Linked DNA regions of Homo sapiens. The protein of the gene in region 1 interacts with the protein of each later gene in a pairwise test. Each region holds a gene or a part of one and is shown on either strand. Other genes may lie near its edges.

Evidence for each region.
Region 2: the proteins of P4HA3 (region 1) and STMN3 interact in binary tests that used the Homo sapiens proteins (3 or more experiments, as listed by UniProt).

The regions. Positions count from the first base shown.
Region 1 is NC_000011.10:74,301,544-74,305,347, forward strand, and holds part of P4HA3 (prolyl 4-hydroxylase subunit alpha-3 isoform 1 precursor), read right to left. Parts: intron 2,870-3,804; coding exon 2,727-2,869; intron 1,050-2,726; coding exon 826-1,049; intron 1-825. UniProt on the Homo sapiens protein: Catalyzes the post-translational formation of 4-hydroxyproline in -Xaa-Pro-Gly- sequences in collagens and other proteins.
Region 2 is NC_000020.11:63,638,934-63,643,450, reverse strand, and holds the end of STMN3 (stathmin-3), read left to right. Parts: intron 1-1,151; coding exon 1,152-1,343; intron 1,344-2,053; coding exon 2,054-2,113; 3' UTR 2,114-3,739; downstream 3,740-4,517. UniProt on the Homo sapiens protein: Exhibits microtubule-destabilizing activity, which is antagonized by STAT3.

The DNA.
Region 1 (3,804 bases):
GAATCAGGACACATGAGACCCACTCCCAGATCTGTTGATGAATACTGTAGGAGTCAGGAAAAATACACCTTACTGCAATAAACATCTTCAAAGTTAAAATGGATTTGCTCCATTGCTTTTTATAGCAAAGGCTGGCAAAGAGTATATTACAAAATGATCTCACGTGTGATTACAACTTATAATCAAAGATCAGTTAAATACCTCAGATGGGGGGCGGGGGTGTTCCTGAAGTCTATTTCCTCAAGTAATGTTAAAGTGAATGGCCTTAGATTTTGGACACTACTTTAATTTTGTACTTCCAAATGCTTAGGAAATGTTGCATTGGATTCCAGAAAGTCTCAGGAGGCTGTTTCCGTGATCTTACCTTTCCATCACCATCTCTTATCCTTTTCCCCAACCTTGCGTCCCTGACCCCCTGCTTTCCCTTTCTACCCAGGAGTTCATGCACTGGCAGGGTGCTATAGTTAGGGTGAACAAAGGACCATTTTTCCTAGTTCATGTCTGTTGTTCTAGCATAATTAATAACACCCCTTTCAATCTCAAGAGTGTTCTAAGTATATAAACACCTTAACTACTATGGAAAGGGCCTGAGATTTGGAGTCAAAAGACTGGGTTCAAGCTTTAGTTCTGCCCTTAAAATTGCATAATCTTAGGGCAAGTTATTTACCCTCTCTGAATCTTGTTTTCTTTCTCTGAAAATGGAAATGATATCAAATTTCCAAGTTTACTGTAAGTATTAAAAAGAAGTAAAATCAATCGGTACATAGTTATTTTATCCATAAGAAACCAGAGCCAAGCAATTGGCCCTCTCTTGAATATTGTTACCTTGCCAACTTGGAAGCAGTCATCCCCTGTGAGAGAAAAGAGCCGTTTGGGGCTGTACAGGTCAGTGATGGCAGAGCCAGTGACTCTCTGAAAGACACCTCGGGCCAGGCCTTTCACATTGAGCATGTACACGTCCTGCAGCCGCATCAGGGCCCTTGCTGCTCCCTCAAGGTCCTCAAAGGCTGGAAGGTCTTGCTCCACCTTCTCATAGCCATCCTTCAGAGCTGTAAAAGTAGTAAAAACATCAACCCAGCATTCAAGAAACAGGAGTTGGGCATTTAATACATGTAAGGCATGACCACCTGTTCAAATATTTAATGACATCAAGTTGGATTTGTCTTTGTGTTCCCAGAGGCAAGCACAGTTCCTGGCACAGGGTGGATGCTTAATGCAATTCTGAATGAGGAACATTCAGAATGAGTGAATGAGGAATAAAAATTAAGGCATACAGCTTCATTATATTGTCCTATCCTGTATGTTTACAGGAGTCTCACTCTTTAGGGAGACAACTCTTCTTTTTCTTTTTCTTTTTTTCTTTTTCTTTTCTTTTCTTTTTTTCTCTTCTCTCCTCTTTTCTTTCTTTTCTTTCTTTCTTTTAATAGAGATAGGATCTTGTTCTGTTGCCTAGGCTGGAGCACACTGGCATGATCATAGCTCACTATAATCTTGAATTCCTGGGCTCAAGTGAGCCTCTCACCTCAGCCTTCTGAGTAGGCAGGACTTCAGGCACACGCCATCACATCCATCTAATTTAAATAAATTTTTTTGTAGAGACAGGGTCTTGCTATGTTGCCCAGGCTGGTCTCAAACTTCTGGCCTCAAGTGATCCTTCCAACTCAAGCTCCCAAAGTGTTGAGATTATTGGCATGAGCAACCACACCCAGACTCTTCTCACTGTTAGCTTTCCAAAAATCAACAAACTTCTTTTTTTTTTTTTTTTTTTTGAGACAGGGTCTTGCTCAGTCGCCCAGGCTAGAGAGCAGTGGCGCAATCTCAGCTCACTGCAACCTCCACCTTCTGGGTTCAAGCAATTCTTGTGCCTCAGCTTCCCAAGTCTACAGGCATGCGCCACCATGCCTGGCTAATTTTTGTTATTTTTAATAGGTTTCGCTATATTGCCCAGGCTAGTCTCGAACTCCTGAGCTCAAGCAATCTTAGCCTCCCAAAGTGCTGGGATTACAGGCATGAACCACTGTGCCCAGCCCAAAAGTCAACACTTTTTTTTTTTTTGAGACAAAGTCTCGCTCTGTCACCCCAGGCTGGAGTGCAGTGGTGCGATCTTGGCTCACTGCAACCTCTGCCTCCCGGATTCAAGCAATTCTCCTGCCTCAGCTCCCGAGTAGCTGGGATTACAGGCATGTAATCCCACGACTCCCCGGTAATTTTTGTATTTTTGATAGCGACAGGGTTTCACTATGTTGGTTAGGCTGGTCTGGAACTCCTGACCTCAAGTGATCAGCCCACCTCAGCCTCCCAAAGTGCTGCAATACAGGTGTGAGCCACCGCGCCTGGCCGTCAACAAACTTCTTACAGCACAAAGTAGAATAAATTAGGAAAGTGATCTTGCTATAGATGACACTGTAGTGACAATTTAATGAAACAGAAACTACTAGAAGACCGTTATTTTCTATACATATATAAATGGAAGGCTTGTACTTTGTCACAGGATTGTAGTGAACATCAAATGAGACAATTGATATGAAAGTGCTTTCTAAGGTATAATCATATAAACTGATTAGCAAGCGGGCCTAATTCTTTGTGCTAGCTAGAGCTAAGGATATTAAGTAATACCCACCTACTCCATTACCCTTTGAAATCACATCCCAACAGAATCTCTCTCCTTACCACCGAGTCAGGAGATAGAATCTTCTCTCTTACCCTCCAGCCCTCCTCCTCATTACCTCGGATGTTCTCACTGGCCTCCAGACTATGTACCACATTCCTCCAGTCAGACTGCAGGCGTTTGATGAGAGTAAATGCAAGCAGAGGGTTAGCCACAGGGGTTGTTGAATCCTCATGCAAAGAAAGTACCTTGTCGTAGAATCTGAAAGAAAGGAGTAGAATGATCTCACCTCCTGATACAACCACTACACCTAGGGAAGGCTGGCATGGTGTGTGTACATTAAGAGTAGCTAACACTGACATGCTGAACCTCTTGAGATTCACATAATAGTCCAACCAAAAAGCCATGCAAGCCCAAAGAATATGAAAACTATAGATACAACAAAAGTAGGTCCACTCTTTTGTTCACTGAATGAGTCAGTCTATATTAATCAATTACTGTATTTCAGGCACCATGCTAGAGATATAAAGGCAAGACAGGGTCCAGCTCTCAAAGGGATCACAAAGTCTTTTTCTCCTGTCATCACTGTATATGCAATACTTAGTATCTGGTAGAAACTCAAAAACACTATTGAATTAATTATAACCACTGTGATATGTGCTATATAGTGGTCCCCAACCTTTTTGGCACCAGGGACTAGTTTCATGGAAAACAATTTTTTCCACGGACCGGGGGGTTGGGGGATGGTTTCGGGATGAAACTGTTCCACCTCAGATCATCAGGTACCAGTTAGATTCCTATAAGGAGCACACAACCTAGATCCCTCACATGTGCAGTTCACAATAAGGTTCACGCTCCTATGAGAATCTAATGCCGTGGCTGATCTGACAGGAGGTGGAGCTCAAAGAGTAATGCTCCCTTGCCCACCACTCACCTCCTGCTGGGGGGCCCGCCTCCTAACAGGCCATGGACTGGTACCGGTCCCTGGCCCAGGGGTTGGGGACCTCTCTGCTATGAGAGAAGTGAGCATATAATGCTGCAGCTGTGCAGGCAGGGCAGCTCATCCAGGTGGGAGTTAGAAGGGGGAAGGAAAGGCTTCCAAGAAGAGATGGCATGTGATCTGAATCTTGAATGATTTGTTAAAATACTGAAAGCTATTACTTATTGAGCTCCTACCATGTATTGGCCTGTTGGGT
Region 2 (4,517 bases), on another chromosome or scaffold:
AATTAGCCAGGTGTGGTGGTGCACACCTGTAATCCCACCTACTAGGGAGTCTGAGGCAGGGGAATTGCTTGAACCCAAGAAGTGGAGGATGCAGTGAGCCGAGACTGCGCCACTGCACTCCTCAGCCCGGGCGACAGGGTGAGACTCCATTTCAAAAAACAAACAAGAACAAAAAAAGAAAGGGATGGAGAGGAGGAAGGGTTCCGAGGCGGCCACCTGGAAGGAGCAGGAGCCTCTGGTGAGGGTGGGAGGCACCCTTGTCAGGGCCAGCAGGATGCTAGGGGGTGGTCCCCAGATGGGCCCTGGGGACGTCGGGTGGGGCATCCCTCTCCCAGACAGGGAAGCTGGAGGAAGGGCCTCATGTGTGAAGACCCTGAGGCTTGCTGGAGGGCGGAGGGGCCCTGGGAGAGGTGGGTGTGGGCTCCAGGTCCCCTCCCTGCAGCCTCCCCTCCCACCAGCCCCTCTGAGACTGAAACAGAGATAAAAATGTCCTTTTGGGGGTGCCACCCTGGAGGCCAACGCATTGGGCAGGGGAAGCGGCTCCGTTCCCTTCCCGGTGAGGCCAGAGACCAGGGTTCACAGGGCTGACTAGTAGGGACTGGCATGTGGGTGCGGGTCCTGCTGCCCCGCTCTCCTCCCAGGGGTCACCAGCCGGCCCCTCCCCCAGCATCCCTGGGGACCCTCCGCTCCTGGGCACCTAATTGGGAGCTGGGAACCCGGTGTGTAACAAGCAGCTACTCTGCTCAGTGGGCGGATGTCCGAGGAAGAGACAAAGCTCAGAGACCGCCCACAAGTTTAGGGTTTCTTGCTGCTGGTCCTTGGAGGGGCAGACGCGCAGGGCAGGGTGTGCAGTGGCGGCAGGGTATGGCGGGGGCCCTGGGCGCAGCCAGGACCGCGGGACCCGCGCGCGAGGCAGGGACGGGGGCGGGGGCGGCGGATCGCGACCCCCTGGCCCTGCCCCGACCACAGGCCGGATGGCAGGCGAGGGTTCCCAGGGCAGCGCCCGGGGGTCCCGGCGCCCACCGAGGCCTGGGCAGGTGGAGGCGCCAGGTGAGGCGAGCGGGCGCTGGGCGGGAGGCGGAGAGCAGGGAGGAGTCCGGCCGGGCAGGGCCCGGGGTTGCCGCTCACGCGCGCCCGCCGGCCCCGCACAGACGCAGGAGGCGCAGGTGCTGAAGCAGCTGGCGGAGCGGCGCGAGCACGAGCGCGAGGTGCTGCACAAGGCGCTGGAGGAGAATAACAACTTCAGCCGCCAGGCGGAGGAGAAGCTCAACTACAAGATGGAGCTCAGCAAGGAGATCCGCGAGGCACACCTGGCCGCACTGCGCGAGCGGCTGCGCGAGAAGGTGCGGGGGCGGGGCCGGGGCGGAGCTCGGAGCGGGCAGGGGCCGGGGCGGGGCCGGGGCGAAGCTCGGAGCGGGCAGGGGCCGGGGCGGGGGCAGGGCTAGCAGCAGTCAGGGGGCGGGGCACTGGGCGGGGGCGGGGCCAGGGCGGAGCTCGGAGCGGGCAGGGGCCGGGGCGGGGCCGGGGCGGAGCTCGGAGCGGGCAGGGGCCGGGGCGGGGGCAGGGCTAGCAGCAGGCAGGGGGCGGGGCACTGGGCGGGGGCGGGGCTAGGGCGGAGCTCGGAGGGGCGCAGAGCGGGGCCGGGGACTCCGAGGCGCTGAGCTGGGGTGGGGGTCGGGGGCTCCTCCCGTGTTTACTGGGCGTCCCCAGCAGCGCACGAGGCAGGTCCAGAGTCTGGTCCTGGCGGGACAGTAACTAGCCGCAGTAATAGATGGCTAAATTCATTATATTGAAAGTGCCCTGAAGGAAGCTCGGCTCCGGTACGAGCTAGAAGCGGGGCCCAGCCAGCTCCCAGGAAACCCGTCCTTGGTCCCTGGCCTTGCTCTGCGCCTCCCCGGTGCTCCCGCCCCCTCAACTCAGTCAGGGTCCTGCCGAAGGCCAGCCCGGATGAGGCCGGGCGGGTGCCAGGGCGCCACGGCCTGCGCGCCTGGGGGTTCCCGGAGTCGCCCCAAGCCACCCCCGCCCTCAGGCCCTCCCGCCCCCTGTCCTGCAGGAGCTGCACGCGGCCGAGGTGCGCAGGAACAAGGAGCAGCGAGAAGAGATGTCGGGCTAAGGGCCCGGGACGGGCGGCGCCCATCCTGCGACAGAACACGTTCGGGTTTTGGTTTTGTTTCGTTCACCTCTGTCTAGATGCAACTTTTGTTCCTCCTCCCCCACCCCCGCCCCCAGCTTCATGCTTCTCTTCCGCACTCAGCCGCCCTGCCCTGTCCTCGTGGTGAGTCGCTGACCACGGCTTCCCCTGCAGGAGCCGCCGGGCGTGAGACGCGGTCCCTCGGTGCAGACACCAGGCCGGGCGCGGCTGGGTCCCCCGGGGGCCCTGTGAGAGAGGTGGCGGTGACCGTGGTAAACCCAGGGCGGTGGCGTGGGATCACGGGTCCTTACGCTGGGCTGTCTGGTCAGCACGTGCAGGTCAGGGCAGGTCCTCTGAGCCGGCGCCCCTGGCCAGCAGGCGAGGCTACAGTACCTGCTGTCTTTCCAGGGGGAAGGGGCTCCCCATGAGGGAGGGGCGACGGGGGAGGGGGGTGATGGTGCCTGGGAGCCTGCGTGTGCAGCCGGTGCTTGTTGAACTGGCAGGCGGGTGGGTGGGGGCTGCAGCTTTCCTTAATGTGGTTGCACAGGGGTCCTCTGAGACCACCTGGCGTGAGGTGGACACCCTGGGCCTTCCTGGAAGCCTGCAGTTGGGGGCCTGCCCTGAGTCTGCTGGGGAGTGGGCATTCTCTGCCAGGGACCCATGAGCAGGCTGCATGGTCTAGAGGTTGTGGGCAGCATGGACAGTCCCCCACTCAGAAGTGCAAGAGTTCCAAAGAGCCTCTGGCCCAGGCCCCTCCCCACCAGGGCTTTGCAGATGTCCTTGAAAGACCCACCCTAGAGCCCTTTGGAGTGCTGGCCCCTCCTGTGCCCTCTGCCCTGGTGGAAGCGGCAGCCACAAGTCCTCCTCAGGGAGCCCCAAGGGGGATTTTGTGGGACCGCTGCCCACAGATCCAGGTGTTGGAAGGGCAGCGGGTAAGGTTCCCAAGCCAGCCCCAACACCCTTCCCACTTGGCACCCAGAGGGGGCTGTGGGTGGAGGCCTGACTCCAGGCCTCTCCTGCCCACACCCTCTGGGCTGAGTTCCTTCTTTCCCTTGGACGCCCAGTGCTGGCCTTGGAGGACGGTCAGCTGGAGGATGGCGGTGGGGGAGGCTGTCTTTGTACCACTGCAGCATCCCCCACTTCTCCACGGAAGCCCCATCCCAAAGCTGCTGCCTGGCCCCTTGCTGTAAAGTGTGAAGGGGGCGGCTGAGTTCTCTTAGGACCCAGAGCCAGGGCCCTCAACTTCCATCCTGCGGGAGGCCTTGGCCGGGCACTGCCAGTGTCTTCCAGAGTCACACCCAGGGACCACGGGAGGATCCTGACCCCTGCAGGGCTCAGGGGTCAGCAGGGACCCACTGCCCCATCTCCCTCTCCCCACCAAGACAGCCCCAGAAGGAGCAGCCAGCTGGGATGGGAACCCAAGGCTGTCCACATCTGGCTTTTGTGGGACTCAGAAAGGGAAGCAGAACTGAGGGCTGGGATATTCCTCATGGTGGCAGCGCTCATAGCGAAAGCCTACTGTAATATGCACCCATCTCATCCACGTAGTAAAGTGAACTTAAAAATTCAATCAAATGAACAATTAAATAAACACCTGTGTGTTTAAGACATGGTTGAACTGTCTGTGTGTGTCCTGCACCTGTGGGGTCGGGGGCAGCTGCGGGCTCCCTGTCTGGGAGTGAAGATCTGCTCTGTGTGTATCTCCAGACTGAAGCTGGTTATAAATCTTATTTTATCATCATGATTATGAATTGTTCTATTGACAACAGTGATTTTAAGATATGAGCATGTAAACTACACACAAGCCCACTTTCCTCTCTGGAATCCAAGGGGTGAGGTGTCAGGGTGGGGGGTGGCAGGGCCCGCTGCTGTGGGTGGGGCTGGCGGGGGCTCCCCTGCCCTCCCTCAGGGCGGAGCCCTCCTCAGGGGCTTCCTGTTGTTCAGGACTCTGTGGCCCGCCGCTCAGGAGGAAAGGGCAGGGCCTACATATGTATGCATCTGAGGCTGGAGCCTCTAGGCTGTGGGACTTCCTGACATGGGGGCAGGTGCTACGAGACCCCTGGGGCTGCACCCCACTGTTCTGTGGACTCACCCCACTCACCCCATTCACCCCTGGGCAGCCGGTTGTTCACGGTCACAGGTCTGGACCCAGGATGGGGGACAGAGTAATAAAAAGTAAGAAGACGTTCTGGGCTGGGCGTGGTGGCTCAGGCCTGTAATCCCAGCACTTTGGGAGGCCGAGGGAGGTGGATCACCTGAGGTCAGGAGTTCAAGACCAGCCTGACCAACATGGTGAAACCCTGTCTCTACTAAAAATACAAAATTGGCCGGGCGCGGTGGCTCATGCCTGTAATCCCAGCTACTCGGGAGGCTGAGGCAGGAGAAT